7 linked regions of the Homo sapiens genome follow. The protein of the gene in region 6 interacts with the protein of the main gene of each other region in a pairwise test. Each region holds a gene or a part of one and is shown on either strand. Other genes may lie near its edges.

Region 1 (3,500 bases), on a different chromosome or scaffold from region 6:
CGGTACAGCTCTTTCTATATACTGCTGGCCAACCACACCTCATAGATTCTTGGTTAGTGCAACTGACCACCCCTAGAACACACAAAAACTGTCTAAAATGAAGTATTTTAAGGTATATTACTGTGATAGTTCATCTCTAAAAATAGCCTCCAAGGGGTTGCAGCGAGCCGAGATCGCACCACTGCACTCCAGCCTGGCAAGAGAGCGAGACTGTTTCAGAAAAAAAAAAAAAAAAAAATAGCCTCCAAGGAACCCAGCCTCATTCCCTTGTTCTCTTCTAATCTGAAACTGACTGGGCCTGTAATCTGCATTAACCAATAGAATGCAATAAAAGTTATACCATGTCACACCCAAGCCTCATCTTTAAAAGGACTGGCAGCTTCTGCTTCCTCTTGGAATGTTTGCTTTTGGGAGCCCTAAGCCGCTATGTAAGATATCTGACTACCCTGCTGGAGAGACCTGTGAAGAGCATACGTGGAGAGGAAGAGAGAGGCCCTGAGACCCCATGAAGAAAGAGAAAAGCCCTCCCCGCACTGCACCCCGCTGCCCCACTCTGACAGCCCAGTCCTCCAGAGGACTCCAGCACCAGAGGCACGAAGAAAGAGAAAAGCCCTCCCCGCGCTGCACCCCGCTGCCCCACTCTGACAGCCCAGTCCTCCAGAGGACTCCAGCACCAGAGGCCCTCTAACTGCAATGGCACGAAAGAGACCTGATTCATTACCAACCATGTATAAAAATACATTTATAAACATATATTCTGTAGGACCTTGAAAAGCAGTTTCCATTTTGTCCAAGTGCACTGATTTCAAAGTTTGGAACAGAAACAAAAGCAATGTTAGTACTTAATAGAAAAAAAAAGTCTCTGTTATACAATATCTAATACAGTTTCTTTACTTGCAGCAACTCATTTTCTACTTTGATAAAAGAAAACATGTATTTCAGGTCAGGGTTCGACAATGAAATTCTATTACTCAACTATACAAGAGACACAGTTAATTTATCACCATATTTTTCTCCATACCAATCCTATGTCCACACAGATCTTTCTTTGAAATGAATTTGGCGCTGATTACTAATGAAAACTGGCCTCCTCTGACTCATCATGAGTTTAAGGAAGTTCAGATAAGACGCATTCCTGGTTTTGGGAATATATGAAACTGTGATAGTTTTACAATAACTTAGTATTAGAAAATAGAATAGAAAAGCGATTTGGTCATGGAAAAGGAAAATCAAAGTGTTACATGATAAGCAATTCAGTTCATGGAGCTTTAGATTTATGCCCTTAAATCCACGAATAAAACACTTATCTTTATTGAATCTATTAGAAAGGAACGAGACAGTTTGACTAACATAAAAATGTATTCCAGGTAAAAGCATTGCACCGTTGGTGATTACGGAAGAAACAGGAGTGTGGTGTGACCATGAGGAAGCAAAAGAAAATGAGGAACTATACAACCATGAAGCAAACGCTTAGTCTCAGAGATCAGAGGCTTAAAGAAAAGGATAGATTAAAACCTAAAGAGAAAGAAAAGAAGGATCCCAGCGCGTTAAAGGAAAGAGAAGTTCCGCAACACCTTTCCTGATTATTTTGCCAATATAATACACAGCTGGGCCCACCTTACCACATCCTCGTTGATACCAACTTTATCAACTTTTCCATAAAAGCCAAACTGGACTTAGTGCAGTCAATGATGGGCTGTCTGCATGTCAAGTGTATCCCTTGTATAACTGATTGTGTAATGGCTGAAATTGAGAAATTGGGGCAGAAGTATTGAGTGGCTCTAAGGATCGCCAAGGATCCAAGATTTGAACAATTACCATGTACACACACAGGAACCTATGCACATGACTGCTTAGTACAGAGAGTAACTCAGCCTAAGTGTGTGTAAGTGTTACATTGTGCCCACAGTTGACCGGGACTTTTTTTTTTTTTTTCTTGAGAGGGAGTTTGGCTCTTGTCGCCCAGGCTGGAGTGCGATGGCGCAATCTCGGCTCACCGCACCCTCCGCCTCTCGGGTTCAAGCGATTCTCCTGCCTCAGCCTCCCCAATAGCTGGGATTACAGGTACCTGTCACCACGCCCGGCTAATTCTGTATTTTTTTTTAGTAGAGACGGGGTTTCTCCACGTTGGTCAGGCTGGTCTCAAACTCCCGACCTCAGGTGAAATCCGCCCGTCTCAGCCTCCAAAAGTCTTGGGATTACAGGCGTAAGCCACCACGCCCAGTGACCGGGACCTTAAAAGAAGAATCCATAAGATTCCTGGAATTCCTATCATGTATATTTCTTTTTTTTTTTTTTAAGACGGAGTCTCGCTCTGTCGCCCAGGCTGCAGTGTAGTGGTGCGATCTTCACTCACTACAACCTCCGCCTCTCAGGTTCACGCCATTCTCCTGCCTCAGCCTCCCGAGAAACTGGGACTACAGTTACACGCCACCACGCGCAGCTAATTTTTGTACTTTTAGTACAGACAGGGTTTCACCGTGTTAGCGAGGATGGTCTCGATCTCCTGACTTTGTGATCCGCCTGCCTCGGCCTCCCAAAGTGCTGGGGTTACAAGCGTGAGCCACCGCGCCCAGCATTTTTTTTTTTTTTTTTTTGAGACGAAGTTGCACTCTTGTTGCCCAGGCTGGAGTGCAAGTAGTGCAGTCTCAGCTCACTGTGGCTCTGCCTCCAGGGTTCAGATGGTTCTCCTTCCTCAGCCTCCTGAGTGGCTGGGATTGCAGGCATGTGCCACAGTGCCCAGCTAATTTCTTTTTTTTTTTTTGTATTTATAATAGAGACAAATACTTTTGTATTTTTAGTACAGAAAAATACACCTCGGCCTCCCAAAGTGCTGGGATTGCAGGCATGAGCCACCGTGCCTGGCCTACTCACTTTTTGATGCTGTTTTGAAATTGATATTTTGTCTCATAAAAATTTTAGTCCAGGCACAGTGGCTCATGTCTGTGGTCCTGGGACTTTGGGAGGCTAAGGTGGGTGGATCACCTGAGGTCAAGAGTTCAAGACCAGCCTGAACAACGTGACAAAACCCCATCTGTACTAAAAATACAAAAAAGGTTGGCAGGTTGTGGTGTTGTGTGCCTGTGGTCCTGGCTGCTGGGGAGGCTGAGGCAACAGAGTTGCTTGAAGCCGGGGGGCGGAGGTTGCAGTGAGCCGAGATCACACCACTGCATTCCAGGCTGGGTGACAGAGTGAGACTGTCTCATAAAAAAAAAAAAAGAAAAAGAAAAAAAAATTCAGTGATGGTCAAAGGGTACAAAATCTCAGACAGGAAGAATATGTTTTATACTTTTTTTGAGTTCTATTGTACAGTGTGGTGCATATACTTAATAATGGAGTATTACACATTTCAAAATTGATGTTCTCATCACAGAAATGTATTGGAAGTATTGGATATGTTAACTAGCTTTATTTAATTATTCCACATTGTATCCACAATTTATGACATCACTTTGTAACCCATAAATTTATACAATTATAAATTGTCAATTTACAATAAA
Region 2 (3,279 bases), on a different chromosome or scaffold from region 6:
GTCACCTGAGTAGCTGGGACTACAGGTGGATGCCACCATGCCTGGCTAATTTTTTTATTTTTATTTTTTGTAGAGATAGGATCTCAACATGTTGCCCAGGCTGGTCTCAAACTCCTAGCCTCAAGCGATCCTCCTACCTTGGCCTCCCAAAGTGCTGGGATTACAGGCATGAGCCACTGAACTTGGCTGAATGTACTCTTTAAGTGTCCATTTTCTTTCACTCAACATGATGTTTGTGAGACTCATTCACAGTGTTGTGTTTACATGGCTTATTTTTATTGCTGTGTTATATCATGTAACTTAACACAATTCGCTTATCCATTCTACTGTTCGTATTTGGTTTGTTTCCTGTGTGGGTCTATTATAAGTGGTGCTGCCATTAACATTCTAGTATATGCCTTTTGATGAATTATGTTTTCAGATCTCTTGGGTATATACACAGGGTTGTAATTGCTGGATCATAGGTTATGGGTATGTTTTTGGCTTTTGTAGATGCTACCACACAGTTTTACAAAGTGGTTGTAGCAGTTCACACTCCCACCAGCATGGTGATGCTAGCTACTACATGATGCTTCCTACACGTGCTCTACTAGGCAGTGTGTTATTTAATCTTCATAGCAGTCCACTTTTTGGATGAGGAAACTGAGGTTGAAGATTTGCCAAGGTGACGCAAGGTAACAGTTGGGGCTCAAAGTCAGTGCCTTGTCACCTCAAAACTGGAGCCTTTAATCCCTATGTTAACAACCCTCTAGGTATTTTTGATTTGGTGTAAGGCACTGTGGTAACTGGCTTGATTTGGAATCTTAATTGTCAGAAGTCAAGATAACCTCGGCCCTGTCACTGGTTAATACTCTATGGTGTGTATGCCAAGAATGTAATATCCCTGTGGAGTTGGTAAATTTTACTTTCGTAGGGAATCACTTTCTATTGATTGATTGAGACAAAGTCTCATTCCGTCACCCAGGCTGGATTTTGGCTCACTGCAACCTCTGCCTCCTGGGTTCAAGAGATTCTCCTGCCTCAGCCCCACTAGCAGCTCCTGCCTCAGCCTCCCTAGCAGCTGGGATTACAGGCGTCCACCACCATGCCCAGCTAATTTTTATATTTTTAGTAGAGCCGGGGTTTCACCATTTTGGCCAGGCTGGTCTCAAACTCCTGACTTCGAGTGATCCGCCTGCCTCAGCCTCCCAAAGTGATGGGATCATAGACATGAGCCACCGTGCCCAGCTGGGAATCACTTCTTTCTCAAAGCTATTCTTTGAGAAGCTATTTGGGAAACTGAGGCTTGGAGAATGGTAAAATAACATGTGAGCAGCACAGAAGAGCAAGAAATAAGGCTGGAGTTTGTTTATGGCTCACATGCTCCCCATGCTTTTCTCCATCTGCCTTTCTATGCTGTGTATTCTCTGCAAACTCATCACCACCGTGTGTTTTAGTCCACCAGTCTCCCTGGGACAGGAATTGGTATTTTCCTCAAAGCCGATCCTTGTCTTTCATATGTCTCCTGATGTGAGGTCATTCTGACTTTTCTTCCTACCCTATAGGTGTTTTTATTCTCAACCTTGTGTGCCGAGACTTGGGGCTAAAAGACTCAGTGCTGGCTGGGCTCAAGGCAGTGTTCCCCCTCCTATATGTCCGGCGAATTGAGGGTGAAGTGAATGAGATCCTGTTCTGTCAGCTGCACCCTGAGCAAAAACTTGCCACACCAGAGCTCCTAGAAACAGCCCAGGCTTTGGAGCGGACCCTGAGGAAGCCTGGGAGGGGTTGGGATGACACGTATGTCTTGTCAGATATGCTCAAGACGGTGAAAATTGTGTGACTGCTTAGGCCAAGCAGCCCTCCTGCCTAGACTGACCTTGGACTCCCAGCCTGCCAGAGAATGAAGAAATACAACGCACAGTACTTTTGAAGCTTCGTATTTTTCTTGGTTTCACACTCAGCTACATGTGACCTCCAGCTTGGTGAGGTTGCCTGAAGATTAGGGAAAATAAAAATGTCCTTCCCATCTTGTCCTCTTCAGTACCACTTGGGTTGGTTTGTCTTTGCTTCCTACACCACGTCCTTGAGTGGAGTTCCCTGCTGAAGCCCCTAGCACACACTGCATGCCTTAACAAGTGTGTGCAAGCCCCTCAGAACTCAAGACATCCAAATTTTATTGCGTCTCTACTTATACTGGTTTGCTTTTGATTTATTCCTCTATTAGTTCTATAGGAGTGATCTCAAGTGAGATAGCAGAGCAAGATGCCAAAAGACCATAAATAGAGTAAGGTTTCTATAGATGTGAGACAGATTTGAGAGAGCATTTACTCTGTCTCCCTGTGGATGAAACTGCTGCTGAAATGGTTCCAATTTTTAGGAATCTGCTTACCCACTTCATTATTTGACAGCTTTCCTTGGTGACCCAAACCTTGTAGCCTAAGCCATTTGTCTTTTTCTCAGTGGAGGGAGTGTATGGACCTGGCCCCATGGCTTTGCATGTTAGAGACCTGGCAGACTAAAGTCTCTAGTGTTTGTTTGCTCACATTTGCTGAGTGACAGCTATGTGCCAGACTGCATAAAGGGTGGTGGCAGAAGTGAAAATGTTTAAGAATGACCAAAAACATTAGTAATGAAAGTTAATGTGTTCCAGGCATTCTTCTAAGTGGTTTACATGCACTGTCTCATTTAATCTGAGATAAAGGATACTTAAGCCCAAACTATATCTAAACCCAAATCTCACTTGGCTGGAAACATCAATCTTAACCATTTATTCAGAACCATTAAACCAATGATTCCAAGACTGGCTTGAATTTTGTCTTTCCTAATTATACCGAGGTTGACTTAATGAGCAGTGCCATGGAAAATAGGCATTGTCACCATTCACCACCTGGCTCTTCTTTCCACAGGCCCTTTAAAAATGGACCCTGACCTTTCAGTTGAAGCATACAGATGCTCTTCAGCCTACGATGGGGTTATATCCTGATAAATCCATCATAAGTAGAAAATGCATTTAATACCCTGATAACCCATTGTAAACTTGAAAAATTGTAAGTCAGAGACTGTCTGTATTTCAGTTAGGTTGTCATCCTTAGAAAGTAGTGTCAGTCTGTTAAGGAGAGGAGGGAGTGCAGAGAAGTGTTTTTAGATCTTACCCATTAGAAATACTTGGTTCTCTTTCTTTAGGAGGGGATCTTCCCCTGGAACCCCGTAACGGGAAGATTATCCCTCATGTCAGGTCTGTGTACCCCAGAGGACCTTACTTGGCAAGTCCTTTCTTTTTTCTTCCTTGTTTTTGAGACA
Region 3 (3,500 bases), on a different chromosome or scaffold from region 6:
GGCCCTGAAGAATGTGGCTCCCACAGTGTAACACCAGGACGCCCCATGGTGGGTCGGGAAGCTGGGCTCACCTTCTTGAGCTGGTCATTCTCCTCCATGTACTTCTTGGCCGCCTCACTAGCACTCTCCGCCTGCTTTTTAAAGGCTTCATTGGAGGCCAGCAGCGTGGCCTGCTGCGAAATGAGAGTCACCAGGCGTCTAAGCAGGCTGCAATTATTTACAAAAAGAAGGGAGAAGTGAGAAAAAGAGCATGAAGGGCTGGCAGGAGCACCTCCTGGTTGCTCCCACTCCACACCTAGCTCCAGCCTGGACCTGCCCTCTTGCCAAGGCAGCCGAGTGAGAAGCCGCCAACCTGGTGCTGGCAGCGTGAGGGAAAAGGTGGGGCCCAGGAGCCGTCCTCTGCCGCTGTGCCCAACGGCCACCCTCAGCTCTCAGAGGGGCTGGAAGCAGGAGCCTGGGGGGCTGGGAAGAGCCTCGCTACAGCATGAGGTCCCAGAACGCGGCACTTTCCGGGTCGGGGCCTAGACGTGCCAGACAAGCCACAGCACCACCTTCCTCCCTGCGAGGCTGGGCTTGCCTTGGTAAGGTAACGAGAGAAGCTAATCAATCCAAGCACTTCCAACATGCCAGGCCGCATCCTCACATCTACCTGATGAGGAAGTTACTATCACTGCCCCAGCTTATAGAAGAGGAAACTGAAGTTCAGCAGCGTAAATCAATGTACCCAAGGCCAAAAACCAGAAATGGACATGGCTGGAATTCCAAATTATGTCTGCCTGACTCCAGAACCTGAGCTCGGAACCACTCTGCTCTCTAAACTAACAGGGAACAGCTCCCAGGTCCCAACGTAAGATAGAACTCTCTTCTCTGGCCAGCCTCCTTCCCAACCCATCATGCAGGCTGCGCTGGAACACATCCGTTATGTAACAGCACCCCGAATGAGGTCTTCTTGGGCTGGAGGGTGTAGAGGAATCAGGACACAGGCGCAGGCTGCCTCTCTGAAGCAGCCAGGAGAGACAGGCAAACAGGTGGCAGCTGGAGGCAGATGCTAGTCCCCAAACAGAGATTGGAATGGCCACTTCATTTCCCTTGGTTCACCCTTGCCCCGAGATGTTAGCTGGCAGGAAGAGAGGAGGGAAGGACTCGTTCAAACAGTCAAAACAAGGCAGGGGTTCCTTTCTCACACACCTCAGAAGGCAAGGGTCACACAGGGCCTGGGGGAAGGAAGAGACAAATCTGCTTAGTCCAGAGTGCTTCAACAACAGCTTACTCAGAAGAGTCGAAGTGGCCTCCTGCCCCAGCCAGGCCTTCACACTTCACAGCCTCTGCTCATGGCCAGGGGCAGCCCGGAAGGGCTGGAGAAAGTAAAGAGCAGACAAGGTGAGCTACCTCCCTGGCCCAAGCCATGGCTCTCCAGGGCCTCGGCAGAGCCCCTTTCCAGATGTACTCAGGACAGAAAGTACCCACCCGGGCCAGGAGACACCCCTGAGGTTCCTGGTTTGGGGAGAGGCTCCCAGGGGCCCCTGGCAGCACCAGGAGAGCCAGGCCGTTGATTCCTGGCAGAGAAGGAGAGTTTCCAGTGACATGTGCTTTCTAAAATTAGCGGCCCAGGACCTCGTGGCCTAGGGCTCAGGTTTCCCTGCCTCAGCCCCCAGCTGCCCACCAGCCTGCCCCGCACTGGGCTACAGCCTGAAGGTGGAGGAAGCTACTGAGCGCCCTAGGAGCCAGAGAGAAACAATGCATCTGACTCACATCGGCATGGCCAGAAGTCAATGGAGAGGCCTAGAAAGAAAGGCAAGTCTGACTAAGACCCAGGCCCCCGGCAAGGAGCTGCCCAGCCCCAGAGCGGATCCCAGTGATGTAGAAAGAGGAAGAGGACCGCTCCTCCCAGCTGGAATTGAGGGGTGGGGGTCATGCCACCTGGTGGTAGAGAGAGGACCAAGCAAGACTGAAGGCTATACTCCCCGCCACCAGGCCAGGCAAGCGGCTGCTGGTGAGTGCCCATGGCTGTCACCCCAGTACCCAGGGAGATAGCTAACACAAATGCTTCCGCGGCAGTGCAGCAGAGGCCCAGCTCTTTTCGGACCGTCCCAGGCCCTTCCCGGCTATTGAGAACCAGGGCTTCCAAGATAGGCCAGGGCATACACAAAGTCCAGCGCAAGATCCACGCTGTGTGTGTCCGAAAGCCTGGCCCTGCTCAGCCCCAGCCCAGGCCTTCAGTTCCCAGCCTTGAGACAGTCTGGGGCTCCCCTCTGCCAGGCCCCGGTTCCCCTTCCTCTTGCCAACCCTCACAGGCGCTCCCCACCCCCACAGCACCCCGGGCATACTCCTCCCACTGCACCCCCAGCCCGATAGTTCTTTTTCACACCTTCTAGGTCCTCTCTCTTCCTGCTGGATGACCCGGGATCATTCTCCCCCCAGGAACCTCACCTTCAACTGCCTCCTTCCTGGAGTCACCCTGCCCAAGCCCCTGGTCTTTTCCCTCCCATATATTCCTCAACCTAGGCTGGCCAAGGCCTGCCCTTCCAAGCCAGCAGCAGGGCCACCAGTGGCCTCCTAACCGCCCAGGCCGGAGGTCACCCTGAACTCCTTGCTCTGCTGCTAAGTTACCCTCCTGAGGTCCCCTCGCAACACCCTCCTCCCACTGTTATTCTGCTCCCTCTGGGGTCTGCACTCTTCAGCTGACACCCTATACCTTCCTCCCAGCCACTCTTATCCCCGAAAGGGTTTTCTCTGTGGCCCAGACTCATACCTAACCTCCTGCTAAACATTGGCTCCTGGATGTCCCCAGAGACATTCTAGACTCAGCTTGTCCAAAACGGGCCTTCCCTTGTCCTGCCTGACCTGACCACCTCGTGTAGCCCCTGCTGTAGTGGTGGGCAGGCAAACCGCCTTGGACTCAGCCCTCTTGGCCCCCAGCCCAAGCCACAACCCAGCACTTTCCATGTCAACTGCAAACATGCCCACCATCATCCCCACTGCTGGCGCCTCCTCCCTATCTGCTGCCATACGGCTTTCCCATCCACCTCCCAGAGCAAGGCAAATCCGACCATGTCAGCCCTCTGCTTAAGCCACCTGCTGCCAGCACGCATGCCCTCAGTGAGCTCTCCTCCTTCACTAACCACGTGGCCCCCTGCTCTAGTAACACCTAACCCCTCACCATTCCTGGAACACGCCTGGCTCTGTGTGGCAGTTCTCCAGGCCGGAATGTCCTCTCGACCCAGCTCAATCCTCACCTCCCCCCAGAAACCCTTTTGGATCTCCCACCCCATCAGAGGGACGCCTTCTGGGGGCTCCTGCAGCAGCCCCCCAGGCACCCGCATGTAACTACCTCATTCTCTGTTCTCTGCGTGGCTGCCATCCGTTTATATGGCTGCCCTACCAGGCTATGAAGGTCTTTAGGCTGGGCACTGTGCCTTCATCTCTGCACTCCCATACCTGGCACACTGAAAAGGGGTCTTCCGCCCACTCCAGCAAGTATAGCTAAAAAAAAAAAGGGG
Region 4 (2,630 bases), on a different chromosome or scaffold from region 6:
CAAGACACAGGATACTGATCCTTTGGCAATGGGGGATGACAGTCAGATGACACCCACTTGCTTGCTCATCAGCATTGTCCATTGGAGAGGAGCTAGGGAAGAGGGTCAGAGGCACATGCGATCTTACTATAGTCTCATACCACCTCTACACCTTGCAGAAGGGATGAGAACAAAGGAAGACAGAAACCAGGAAAAAGCTAAACTTCTTTCGCTATTTCAGTAAAGACCAATGTCTTATTTCCAAACACTTTGTATTCCAAATGGAAAGAAGTCCAACGGCAAAAAGTTTAGAATACTAAGAATTTTTAATTCTTAGTAAGAATACTTAGAATTCTAAGAATTTTTCTTAGAATGAAAAATTGGGAGCAGCCTTCAACACTTACGGAAGCTGGATTTTCCTCAGGTTTCTTTGGCTCAGGTGCAGATCTGGAGTCTTGATCCTTTTTGCCATCTTTCCTGCAGAGACGTAAGCATAAAACCATGTCTTTAGGAAAGGACTCGCCTAATACAAACATGTGTATGCATGCAGTTTCAAGGCACTGAACAGGCACCTCTAGTCAACAGTCCTTGTTGTCTGGATGATGTATTACTTCTAGATTTTCAGAATCTTAACTGTCTACGTTGGCTGACTTTAGTTTGCTCACAATGAGCGATCTGGCAGTGCTCTGAGAACCAAGAACTTAATTTCTTAATTACACAAACATGTGGATCAGAGGAAAGATGAGAAAGAGAACAAGCATACCTATCTGACTCCTTCCAGTGGTCTCTGTTCCCTCCGTCGCCTGGACCACGGCTAGAGTTCCCAGTTTGGCCTTTTGGGGCATTCATCCCATCTACTTTATTTTCATCTGCTTGGGCAGTAATGTAAACAAATTAAAGGCAAGTAAAAGTATCAATGTCCCTCTCCTAAGATTTCCCTTAAGCTGAAGAAAATTGTGCCCACATGTACTGAGGGAAACTAACCTCACCCCAACCCAGACTTCCTTCCTGAAGCCCTTCTTTCCACATCCTCTACAGCACACAAAAATACAAAAAACAAACAAAATCCACTAAAAAGTTCCATGTAGGGATATGCCATCATGAAAAGCAAGCTGGAAATAAAGATTATGACGCTCTGTAGTGACCTTGGTTAATTTCCTTCCGATTTTTTTCTCCCCGTCAAAGAAATGTTCTACCAGGAAAGGGCAGGGTTTCATACTTTCTCCAAAGAGGCCACTCCTCCCTCTACTGGCAAGAAAAGGTAGATAACCCAATAATTCTTTTTTTTTTGAGACAGAGTCTTGCTCTGTCGCCCAGGCTGGAGTGCAGTGGGGCCATCTTGGCTTACTGCAACCTCCGTCTCCCGGGTTCAAGCAATTCTCCTGCCTCAGCGTCTCCCGAGTAGCTGGGATTACAGGCATGTGCCACCACACCCGGCTAATTTTTTTTGTATTTTTAATAGAGACGGGGTTTCACCATGTTGGTAAGGCTGGTCTCAAACTCCTGCCCTGTGATCTGCCCGCCTTGGCCTCCCAAAGTGCTGGGATTACAGGTGTGAGCCCCTGCGCCTGGCCAACCCAAGAACTCTTAACACGGTATCAGGTGCGAGACACACTGCTCTTCAAAATCTAATTTTGGAGGCCTTTTTATTTAGGCTTCTAGGTGAAAAACCTATTTCCCATACTATGAGCTCACCTTTCCTTCCTGGTCCTTCCTCAGATGGTTGAGCTGGAGCTACTTTTCCCCCACCACTAGAAGGAAAACAGGTAATCACATTCATCAGTTGTTTCAGGGAGAAAACAACCAAGAAACATAATCATCCTCCAAATGCAGTGGGTAAGCTTTATAGAAAACAAAATCATACTCAATGTTATGGAACATTAAAATATGGGAAAGATTACAATGAAAGCAGTAATTTGAACACTAAAGTGCCATATGCTTTCTAATCATCACATCATGCAGGATTAGTATTGCTATTTTCTTTTCTTTTGGAGTCTTAACTCTGTCGCCCAGGCTGGAGTGCAATGGCACATCTCGGCTCACTGCAACCTCCGCTCTCAGGTTCAAGCAATTCTCCTGCCTCAGCCTCCCGAGTAGCTGGGATTACAGGTACCTGCCACCACGCCAGGCTAATAGTGTTGCTATTTTGCTTACAAATGAGAAGACTTAAGAGAAATGAAAGGAAGTTACCCCCTACCATACTGCCAATATGTGGCAAAAGGGAAGCCTCTGACTTACAGTATTTGCAGATTTGTGCGGCATTAGTACTCCCATCATAGCTGATTTCAAGCTATCAAAGTGGTGGAACTCCAGAAAATGGAACAACTAGGTCTTATGAGCCAGTTCCAGCACACTAAGAGACTAAAGCCAGCATAACTTATAAGGTGCTATACAACGCTGGCATCCCGTAGGAGATCTTCCATCATTACATCACAGTATTTTAGAATCTGCAGTTAACCAACTACTGTTTCCAAACTGACTCACCTTGTAGGGGACTGCTGCTCTGTGTCTGAGCTCTGAGATCGAGCAGGAGGGTTAGAACTTCGCTTCACCCAAGCATTCTCCTTTGGTGGAGGGGCTGGCATTACCTTTAGGGGCTGATCAGGTTTGGGAGGTTTAGAAGTTGGAGAGTGGCAATCTTCCTCCTTATT
Region 5 (3,945 bases), about 46 Mb from region 6:
AGAGACAGGGTTTTGCCCTCTTGGCCAGGCTGGTCTCGAATTCCTGACCTCAGGTGATCCGGCCACCTCAGCCTCCCAAAGTGCTGGGATTACAGGCGTGAGCCACGGCGCCCAGCCAATTCTCTTCTTTTTCTTTGAGACAGGGTTTCACTCCTGTCGCCCAGGCTGAAGTGCAGTGGCATGAGCTCGGCTCACTGCAGCCTCAACCTCCCTGGGCTCAGGTGATCCTCCCACCTCAGCCTCCAGAGTGGCTGGGACTACAGGCCTGCGACACCACACCTGGCTAATTTTTTTTTCTTTGTTTTAAGTAGAGACAGGGTTTCACCATGTTGCCCAGGCTGGGAAATTCTCTAGATGGACCTGCAAGTTTTTGGTTATAAGGAAACTGAGTCACAGAGGGTCAGGAGCTTGCCTGTTTATAAAGCAGTGATGTGGCAGAATCAGAATTTGAACCCAGCCTTTAACCTAGTGCAATCCTTTCCTCATCCTAGTCAATGGCACATTTGGGGTTCAAGTCTCGTCTCTCCCAGAGCCCACCCCAGAGGGGAAGGATCGAAGCCTTAGGAAGCTTCTAGAAGTACTGTGTCCTGTAATCCCCTCCTCGGGCTTTTAACAATATCTTGTTGAATCTCCCCCACCCCTCAAAGCACCCTCCCTCCCCACAGTTATCTCAGCCCCACAAGAAAAAGGAGATGACCAGCCCCATTGGACAGATGGGGAAACTGAGGCCTAGAAGCTGGGGATTTACAAGATCCCAAGAACTCTGCCAGAGGTCCCTGCGTCAAAGCTCGAGCGGGTGTGATTCCAGGGAGGTCATCTGCTGAGGGGTGTCGGGAGATGCTGGGAAGGGGCAGGCATGCTGTGGAACTGGGCCGTTCCTGCCTCTCGCTCTGCCTCCTTGCCCTGCTCCCCGTCTGTAACACCTGAGCTGTACCTGGGCAAGTGTGAGTCATTTTTTAGCGTTGACGTCTCTCTGGGAGGAGTGTTCCCCTGTCAACGGCTGGAGTTTTGTCCTCAAGGCACCCTTTCGTGGCCCCATTGGACAGACAGGGACACTGAGGCCTCCGGAACCCACCATACTGAATTGTCAAGCAATCAAAAGACCCCTCACCCACCTGGGCTGACCCCTGGGGGAACGGGGATGAGGAAACTGAGGCTCTGGGGGCACCTGACCGTCGGTCCAAGGCCACACAGTGGGAGGGGCCGTACCGCGGGGCCTCAGACCTGCACCCGTCTGCAGAGCCACCCCACCATTGGAGCAGGGTTCAAGTCCCCCCCCCGGCCCCATATTCCCTGCAGGGGTCCAGGCACTCACCCACCACCTGTATCCCAGGCTGCTCCAGCCTCTGGCCAGTGCCCGATTCACCCAGGTGTTTGTGTGGCTGGAGACAGCCCTTTGTTCACGGTTTCCATAGGTACAGCGTCCCTGAGCGGCCCCTCCTCTGCCCCTCCCAGCCCTTGCCTGTGCAGGTCCTGGGTCCGGCCCATCCAGGGAGCTTGTTATGTTTCAAAGTTGGCGCCCTCGGACCTGCCGTAGTGGCAGAGGGCACAGCCCATGCAAAGGCCCTGAGAGAGGACCTCGCCTGGGGTGTTGGAGAAACAGGAGGAGGCCAGTGTGACTGGGGCAGAGCCACAGCGAGAGTCAGGCAGGTTATGAGCAGGGCCTGTATTCCTGCATCTGATCCCCCAGCAGCCCTCAACTTGGGGAGTTACGACCCACTCCTGTTTTACAGATGAGGAAACTGAGGCTCCGCAGAATTGAAAAACTGGTTCAAGATATCATGCGGGTGGCAGAGCTCAAACCTAGATTGGTCCAAGCTCCGCCACCACTGGGCTGGCCCCCCTGGGGCCTCCCAAGGCGTTCATCGCCTCCAGCTGAGCTGGGACTGGCTCAGGAAATAAACTCTGGCGGCCTGTTTACACCTGGGGCTGCTCCTCCACCAGCCCTTCCCCCCTCCATAGAGAAGGTGCTGGGAAATGTGAGGATGCAGAGAAAACAGATTCTGTCCTGCCTCTGTCCCCACTTCCCTGGACAAACATTGGAAGCATTGGCCTCTTTCTAGGCCTTAGTTTCCCATCCCAGGAAATGGGCCTAGTTCGACTTCACAGAAAAGGCCAGGAGGCGGCAGGTGTCCTTCAGATCACCTGCCAATTACCTTAGCAGCGACGGTCCCAGTTCACAGCTGGCAAAACTGAGGCCAAGTCCCCACAGGCCACTTGGGAGCTCATTAGGGGCCAGTCTGGGTGGGCCCGGGCTGGCCTAGGCCTGGCTCCCCGCCACCGATGCCTGGACCGATGCCTGGTTTAGCTAGAAGCTACAGTCATGCCCACCTCCGCACGGCTGGCCCAGCTGCCCACCGCCTGGAATGCCCTCAGGGTTCTGGAATCTGGCCTGAGCACCTGCGGCCCTACAGTTAAAGGGGGCAGAGTCCACTAGAGTCCACATGGGGGATGGGGGTGCTGGTCCCAGAGCAGAGCCCCACGCCAAGGGGGGCAATTGAGACTCAATCTGTCTCCCCCTAACCTATACAGCGAGAGTGACAGAGAGACAGACGGAAACTGAGGCAGGAATGTAGACGGACAGGCGGTGGGGTGCAGAAGCATTAAGGGGCGGGAGAGACAGAGGGCGGCCAGGTGGCCCCCGAGATGCGCTGAAATGGGGGGCGCCCCGGCACTGCTCGCTCACCTACTCTCGAAGCAGAGTCCGTACGTCCAACCGTCGGGGGTCCGTCCAGCCGCCTCCGTGGGCCGGGGCCGTTGCCGCGGCGGTGGGAGCAGCGCCGGAGCCGGGGCCGGGGCCGGGGCGGGGCGGGCAGCGCGGCCCCGCCCTCCACTCGCCTCGCCCCTCGGCAGGCCACGCCCTCCACTCGCCCCGCCCGCGCGGAAGGGACCGGAGAGTTGCCAGGCCTGGGGGGCGGGCCGAGCGCTCCGGATTAGCCAATGACAGGGCGGGCAATGTACGAAAAGGCCAATGGGAGCAGGGCACTGCGACGGGGGGGAAGTGGGGGGAAGGGGCGGAGCCTGGGGGCGGGGTCAGGCGGCTCTGGGGGATTCCTCCGGAATCGCGAAGGGGCCCGGATGCGGGGGCGAGGCCGTCGTGGGGGTGCCGGCCACAGAAAAGGGAAGAGATAAGAGTACGAGACAGACAGAGAACCTGGGGAGGGAGGCACAGAGACACCAACAGGAAGAGACCAGAGAGCCAAAAGGCAAAACAGACCAACCACGTGGTTCTGCACGGGCCCCTTCCTCCTTCTGGGGCTAGTTTACCCGCCTGGGTAATAGGAATTTCGGCAGAAGCGTGTTTCTCAAAGTACGGCCTCGGGGAACCCTTCGCGTCAGAAAGATCTGAGAGTCCATTTTAAAATGCAGATTCCAACTAGGTGTGGTGCCTCACGCCTGGAATCCCAGCACTTTGGGAGGCCAAGGCAGGAGGATCCCTTGAGCCCAGGAGTTTGAAACCAGCCTGGGCAACCTAGGGAGACCCTGTCTCTACAAAAAAAAAAAAAAAAAGAAAGAAAGAAAAAGAAGAAGATCAAAATAAGTTAAAATTTTAAAAATACAGAGTTCTGTGCCACAAGAAGGGATGAATCTAACCCAGGGTTGTGGGGCTATAGATGAATCTTTGGGGTGAGGTGGAGGGCTCCTGGAGACCTCATCAGAGGATCCCCAGGTCCAGCCTCGATTTCCGTAGGAATGAGCCTGCAGGACACACAGGAGCCTCCCGGCTGCGCAGCGCCAGCTGGGGTCCCCCGGGGAGGATGCAGCTGTGAGTCCTGGGAACCAGGCCCTGGAGCTGCTCCCAGGTCCCCTGCAGCACCATTTCCGCCCTGCAGCCCAACTCTGGGTCCCGGTTGCAGCTAGGGCCTAGGGAGCCCATAGCAACCTCGCTGCTTCTTCCTCCAGGAAGCCAGACAACAAATTGTTGAGGGCCTGTTGTGTGTCCTG
Region 6 (3,500 bases):
TGACCTCAGGTGATCCGCCCGCCTCGCCCTCCCAAAGAGCTGGGATTACAGGCATGAGCCACCACCACACCCAGCCTGATTTACATTTTTACAAGCACCCTGGCTACCACGTGGAACGTGGTCTGGGCAAGAGAGAGGGAGGGAGGCCCACGTGGGGGCTGTTGCTTTCATCCGGCGACATAGGAGGGTGGCTTGAACCCAGGCGGTCGCAGTGGGGATGGAGGGATGTTGAATATCTTGGGATGTGGAATTCTGAGACTGAGCCAGCAGAATCTGGCAACGAGGAACAGGAGGGAGAGGAAGAAGCACGGCTGGCTTCCGTGTATTTGTCCTGAACAACTGGGTGTTTTGCCACGTCTTTCTCTGAGTTGTGGGAGAGGGAAAGAGAAACAGGCCGGGTGTAGGCAGGGGAGCATCTGACATTTTGCTTTAGCCACGATGAGTTGGAGATGCCGGGGAGATGTCCCAGCAGGGAGGCCAGGGAGGACTCTGGAGCTCAGAGGAGAGGTCAGGGCTGGAGGTTAAAATGAAGGCATCGTCAGCAAACAGGTGTATTTAAAGCCATGGGACTAGATGAGATCATCCAAAAAGCTGGCATAGTTGGAGGAGCTGGAGGGCCCAGGACAAAAACCCTGGGCGCTGATCCTCACTAGTCAGATTCACGACAGCTGCCACTTGTTTGATGCTAACTACCAATCAGGTGCTGAGTGAAACCATGTACACACCTTTCCTGGAATGCCCACCACAAGGGACTCTTGGCACCATTTTGCAAATGAGGAAACTGAGGTGCAGGGAAATAGCAAGTGACAATCCCTGGGGTGGTTCCCCTGACCCCAAGGAGACCTTGGATGACTCTCACCACCATCATTCATTCCTTTGATGTACATTGACTAAGAGCACCTGCTAAGTGCCACATTCGAGTTGGGCAGTGGAGATTCAGCAATGGATGGGACACACACGTCATCCCTGCCCTCGGGAGCACAAGGACAGAAAGGTGCAGACAAGCAAAGTGAGGGCTGGGCATGGTGGCTCACGCCTGTAATCCCAGCACTTTGGGAGGCCGAGGTGGGTGGATTACCTGAGTTCGAGACCAGCTTGGCCAACATGGCTCAACCCTGTCTCTACTGAAAATACAAAAAATTAGCCAGGCGTGGTGGTGGGCTTCTGTAATTCCAGCAACTTGGGAGGCTAAGGCAGGAGAATTGCTTGAACGTGGGAGGCGGAGGTTGCAGTGAGCCGAGATCGCGCCACTGCACTCCAGCCTGAACCACAGAGCGAGACTCTGTCTAAAAAAAAAAAAAGGAAAGAAAGAAGCAGCAAATTGGGCTGGCCGTGGTGGCTCATGCCTGTAATCCCAGCACTTTGGGAGGCCGAGGCGGGTGGATCACTCGAGCCCAGGAGTACAAAGCTGCAGTGAGCTGTGATCTACAGAACACCACTGCAGATCCAGCCTGGGTGACAGAGCGAGACCCTGTCTCAAAAAAACAAACAAACAAAAGAAGCAAACCCTTCAAAACCCCATATAATTACAAATTATGAAGGAAAAGAATACGGGTACCTACTTTAGATGGAGGAGGGTCAGGAAGGACTTTCTAATGAGATAAAATCCAAGCGGAGGCATGAAGATGGGAAAAGGAATGTTCAGGGCAGAGGAAAGGCTGTGATAACACCCCTGAGGTGAGAACCGTCTTGAGTATTCTCAGAAAATAAAATTTCCCGTTCACTGGGGGGCAGAAGGTGCTGGGAGATAAGGTTGGAAAGTGACTACAGCCAGATCACACAGGGGCTCCAGTGCCAAGTGGAGGAGCCCAGGCTTTATTCTTAGGACAATGGGGAGCCATGGGTGATGTCTGAGCAAGGGAGTGACTCTCTGTTTCAGGAATATGTATCAAACACCTATCCTGTGCCAGGTGCTGATCAACGCACTGGAGATACTATATCTGAATAGAACAAAAATCCCCATCTTGACATCCTAGAGCTGCACTGTCTAATATGGTAGCCATCAGCCACATATAGCAAATTACATTGAAATTAATGAAATGGAAAATCCACAAGCCACATTTCAAGTACTCAGCAGCCACCTGTAGCTTGTGGTTCCCCCAGCCACCTCTGGACAGTGCAGATCGAGATCATGGCATCGTAGCATTTAGTGGACAGCATTGCTCTGCAAGGAGGAGAAATAACACAATGAGTAAATATTTAACAATAAATATATAGCAGGTCGGATGATTGTGATAGGTTCTCTGGTGGAACAGAAAGCAGGGGAGGGAGATAGGAATTGCCTACTAACAGGTATTTGTATTTTAATTGGGCAACTAAGGAAGGCTTCCCTGAGAGGCGACATTTAAAGGAAGTGAGGGAGTGAGCTATGCAGATACTTGGAGGACAGACTTGCTGGCAGAGGGAACAGCAGTGCAAAGGCCCTGAGGTGGGAAGATCACTATTGTGTTCAAGGCAAGACAGGGAAGCCAGCGTTTGGCTGGAGCAGAGGGAGAGAAGGGGAGAGTGGGAGGAGAAGATGTCTGTGAGATGATGGGGCAGTGCTTGCAAGGCCTGGTGTGCCACGTTGAGAACTTTGGCTTTGATTCTGAGTGAGATGGGAGTCATAGGAGGGGCTGAGCAGAGGAGGCACAGGACCAACTTACATTGTTAAAATATCTCTGGTTGCTTTGTGGAGGATGGACTGTGGGGGACCAGAGACAGAGCAGGGAGCCCAGTGAGGAGGCTACTGCTCTAGTTCAGGTAGGAAGTGAAAAGGCAGCTCAAACCAAGATGGTAGCCGTGGGAAAGGTGAGATGTGGCCAGATTCTGGATATGCTTCAGAGAGGCAAAAGGAATTCTGGACAGCTTGGATGTAGGGCATGAAATAAAGAGAGTGAAGAATAGCCCCCAAGATTATTCTGAAAGGATGGAATTGCCATTTACCCAGCTGGGGAAGACTGTGGGAGGAGCAGGCCAGCGATTCATGACTTCCCAGCCCTCTCTGAAGCCTCAACTGCAGCCCAAGGGCTCCAGGTGAGACCCAGCCCTCTTCCTTCCCAGGAATCTTCAGGTCTTCCTGGGGAAGCATAACCTTCGGCAAAGGGAGAGTTCCCAGGAGCAGAGTTCTGTTGTCCGGGCTGTGATCCACCCTGACTATGATGCCGCCAGCCATGACCAGGACATCATGCTGTTGCGCCTGGCACGCCCAGCCAAACTCTCTGAACTCATCCAGCCCCTTCCCCTGGAGAGGGACTGCTCAGCCAACACCACCAGCTGCCACATCCTGGGCTGGGGCAAGACAGCAGATGGTCAGTAGTGGGAGGCTGGTGGGGAGCAGGCTACTGGCTACTTGGGGAAGTGTGCCAAAGGATGGGGAGTGGGAAAATTGGTGAGGGGCCATGGGAAGATGGGCTAATGGTGAGGACCAATGGGACAGGGTTTCAATGGGAGAAAGGTCAAGGGGGAGGGAGAGTGAATTTGGGAGCTGGGCCAGTGAGTGAACAGCCAATGGAAAATGT
Region 7 (2,725 bases), on a different chromosome or scaffold from region 6:
GGCTGGGGCTGCTGGCTCACGCCTGTAATCCCAGCACTTCAGGAAGCCAAGGCGGGAGGATCGCTTGGGCCTAGGAGTTCGAGACCAGCCTGGGCAACATGGCAAGACCCCTCCATCTGTACAAAAAATACTAAAAGTCGCTGGGTGTGGTGACGCGCGCCTGTAGTCCCAGCTATTCAGGAGGCTGAGGTGGGAGGATCATCAAGCCCAGGAGTCTGAGGCTGCAATGAGCCGTGATTGCACCACTGCACTCCAGCCTGGGCGACAGAGCGAGACCCTGTCTCAAAAAAAAAAAAACAAAAAAAAAACCGTGACTGCACATGAGCTAACCACGCCTGTCCACAAAGTTAGGAAAACGAGCTACCCTCAGCCCGTCCGCTGTCCACAGTGGGGGCGCCAGGGGAAAGGGGTCAGCTTCCCCGCCTGGGGCTGTGTCTGGTTCTGATTGCACTGCAGTGAATCTGCCCTAAACCAAACGTCAGAAAGAAAAGCGGCAGACGTTTCATCACAACACAGAGACAGACAGGAGCCCGCCCTGCTTTAATGCGCATGCGGGGGAGCCGAGAGGCGGGGCTGCTGGCGGGGGAGCCGAGAGGCGGGGCTGCTGGCGGGGGAGAGCGTGTCCGGGCGCCGCACTCTGCGCAGGGCTCTTGGATGGCGCTCACCACGTCACGTCTTCTGTGCTTTCGGCCAAGCACTGGGCCAGGTGGCTGTCAACATCCAGCTGGGTCAGCCTGCAAGGGAGGGGCCACACTCACTCGGCCACCTCCGCGGCATGCTGGCCGCAGAGAGCACCGTCTGGACCTCCGGGCCCTCTCTGCTCCTGCCGCTGGAGAGGATCCGGCTGGTCAGAAACAAGGGACGGGGCCACCCCAGGGGCTCATGCACCCGGCAGACCACGGTAACCGCCAGTGGTGTTTCCACACCGTGCCCGTGAGGAGGCCACGCCAGGCCCCTGCGTCCGAGCTGGGGGTGGGGAAGCTGTGTCTCAACAAGCCTCTCTATGGGATTCTGGCGCCTGCTCAGCTTGAGAACGCGCTCATCGTGGAGCCCGGCAGACAGGCGGCCTGACCCGGAGAAAAGGCAGGACGGCGGGTGGCCTGCCAGGGAGAGCCGCCGCGGCTGCGTCTACAGGAGGCAGAAGAGTAAACATGGCTGGGCAGTGGATGTGCAGCTCACGTCAGAGAATTGGTGTTTCTGGCGAGGAGGGACCAAGCCTCACCACGGAGAAGGACGCCGTCACCGGCGTGCAGGCTGCCAACCTGCCACTCTGGGAGGCCCCACGCGGCCCCTGCACCTCTCAGGAGGGCGCTGGCGCTGGGATGGTGGCCGGCCAGGCAGGGGTGGCAGGAGAAAACCCATCCGAGTCCTGCAGGTCAGCGCCCTGGGCATCCAGTGGGGCCGGGAGGGGTGTCTGAGCGCAGCCACCTTCTATCCCCGGCCTCATGTGGCCCCATCAGCCCAACTGGAGCGGCTGGAAATGACCATCACCAGGCCTGGCCAAGGTGTGGCCCTGGAAGCCAGGACAGTTGACTTCCGGCCATGACTCCCGGAGAGTGCCGGAGCTGGCGTGCTCAGCAGAGCTGCCGGGGACGATGTCCCGGGGCTGAGTGGGCGGCTTCAGCCTAGACTTGGGCCTAGATCTTGCTGGAGGCCAAGTGGTCAGTGTCCCATCAGAGTGACCATCCCTCACACGCCACTGCTGGGGGACACACCCCCACTGAGCGGCCAAGTCCACAGGACACGTGTCCCTGTGTCCACCTGTCAGCCACACCGCCCCTCGCTCCCCTACAGCCTCTGCCCTCAGACCAGTCCACGGCGCGCCGTTTTACCCTTGGGCTTTGCTGTGTCCCTTCCTTTGGCTCCTGTGCCCCGTCTGTGTGGCCACTGCAACCCTCAAGTCCCCCTCTCCAGACCATAGCTGGACCCCCACTCCCGGGGCTGGCTCCAGCAGCCATCAGCTGCCTTCTCACTCTGGCAGAGCCCACCCAGTGCCTTCTGAAGCCCCCGAGGGTCACTCAGTCTGAGACTTTCCGGCTTCTGCCCATCCTGGGAACCAGCCCCTCCCTCCAGAAGCTTTCTCTAAGGTTGCCAGAAGGTGCTAAGATCTGAACCGAGGTCATCTTGTCCCGGGGTTTCCAGGCAGCGTCCCTTGTTTGGGGGCCCTCTGAGATGCCTTCAGACCCCCGCCTGTGGCGGAAGAGCTTTGTCCTGGCCTGATCTGCCCTGTCCGTGACGCTTCTGCTCAGTAGCTGAGCACGCCCTGTGGTGTGGACAGGCCAGCCCGGCTGCAGGACAGTGGGGGCTCAGTCCAGAAGCCTCTGGTGGCTTCTGCGTGTGGGCAGGGGAGCAGGGCTGCAGGGTGGGCTGGCACCTGGCAGCGTGAGGGGCCTCAGGGCTGTTAAAATCCCAACGACCGGCCGGGCGCGGTGGCTCACGCCTGTAATCCCAGCACTTTGGGAGGCCGAGACGGGCGGATCACCTGAGATCAGTTCAAGACCAGCCTGACCAACATGGTGAAACCCTGTCTCTACTAAAAATACAAAAATTAGCCAGGTGTGGTGACGCCTGTAATCCCAGCTACTCAGGAGACTGAGGCAGGAGAATCGCTTGAACCCGGGAGGCAGATGTTGCAGTGAGCCGAGATCATGCCACTGCACTCCAGCCTGGGCGACAGAGCGAGACACCGTCTCAAAAAAAAAAAAAAATCCCAGTGACCAACCCA

Evidence for each region.
Region 1: the proteins of KLK6 (region 6) and SDCCAG8 interact in binary tests that used the Homo sapiens proteins (3 or more experiments, as listed by UniProt).
Region 2: the proteins of KLK6 (region 6) and METTL13 interact in binary tests that used the Homo sapiens proteins (3 or more experiments, as listed by UniProt).
Region 3: the proteins of KLK6 (region 6) and BCAP31 interact in binary tests that used the Homo sapiens proteins (3 or more experiments, as listed by UniProt).
Region 4: the proteins of KLK6 (region 6) and EIF4B interact in binary tests that used the Homo sapiens proteins (3 or more experiments, as listed by UniProt).
Region 5: the proteins of KLK6 (region 6) and TNFAIP8L1 interact in binary tests that used the Homo sapiens proteins (3 or more experiments, as listed by UniProt).
Region 7: the proteins of KLK6 (region 6) and FAAP20 interact in binary tests that used the Homo sapiens proteins (3 or more experiments, as listed by UniProt).

Annotation. Positions count from the first base shown.
Region 1 is NC_000001.11:243,266,041-243,269,540, reverse strand, and holds part of SDCCAG8 (serologically defined colon cancer antigen 8), read right to left. Parts: intron 1,921-3,500; exon of another isoform or gene 1,368-1,920; intron 1-1,367. UniProt on the Homo sapiens protein: Plays a role in the establishment of cell polarity and epithelial lumen formation. Also plays an essential role in ciliogenesis and subsequent Hedgehog signaling pathway that requires the presence of intact primary cilia for pathway activation.
Region 2 is NC_000001.11:171,794,938-171,798,216, forward strand, and holds the end of METTL13 (eEF1A lysine and N-terminal methyltransferase), read left to right. Parts: intron 1-1,544; coding exon 1,545-1,819; 3' UTR 1,820-2,779; downstream 2,780-3,279. UniProt on the Homo sapiens protein: Dual methyltransferase that catalyzes methylation of elongation factor 1-alpha (EEF1A1 and EEF1A2) at two different positions, and is therefore involved in the regulation of mRNA translation.
Region 3 is NC_000023.11:153,703,888-153,707,387, forward strand, and holds part of BCAP31 (B-cell receptor-associated protein 31), read right to left. Parts: intron 208-3,500; coding exon 72-207; intron 1-71. UniProt on the Homo sapiens protein: Functions as a chaperone protein. Is one of the most abundant endoplasmic reticulum (ER) proteins.
Region 4 is NC_000012.12:53,037,456-53,040,085, reverse strand, and holds part of EIF4B (eukaryotic translation initiation factor 4B), read right to left. Parts: coding exon 2,464-2,630; intron 1,731-2,463; coding exon 1,675-1,730; intron 849-1,674; coding exon 743-848; intron 457-742; coding exon 384-456; intron 1-383. UniProt on the Homo sapiens protein: Required for the binding of mRNA to ribosomes. Functions in close association with EIF4-F and EIF4-A. Binds near the 5'-terminal cap of mRNA in presence of EIF-4F and ATP.
Region 5 is NC_000019.10:4,638,371-4,642,315, reverse strand, and holds the start of TNFAIP8L1 (tumor necrosis factor alpha-induced protein 8-like protein 1), read right to left. Parts: upstream 2,801-3,945; 5' UTR 2,687-2,800; intron 2,300-2,686; exon of another isoform or gene 2,157-2,299; intron 1,365-2,156; exon of another isoform or gene 1,316-1,364; intron 1-1,315. UniProt on the Homo sapiens protein: Acts as a negative regulator of mTOR activity.
Region 6 is NC_000019.10:50,963,092-50,966,591, reverse strand, and holds part of KLK6 (kallikrein-6 isoform A preproprotein), read left to right. Parts: intron 1-2,081; exon of another isoform or gene 2,082-2,164; intron 2,165-2,925; exon of another isoform or gene 2,926-3,036; intron 3,037-3,042; coding exon 3,043-3,290; intron 3,291-3,500. UniProt on the Homo sapiens protein: Serine protease which exhibits a preference for Arg over Lys in the substrate P1 position and for Ser or Pro in the P2 position.
Region 7 is NC_000001.11:2,189,048-2,191,772, forward strand, and holds the end of FAAP20 (Fanconi anemia core complex-associated protein 20), read right to left. Parts: exon of another isoform or gene 751-2,725; intron 735-750; coding exon 662-734; 3' UTR 501-661; downstream 1-500. UniProt on the Homo sapiens protein: Component of the Fanconi anemia (FA) complex required to recruit the FA complex to DNA interstrand cross-links (ICLs) and promote ICLs repair.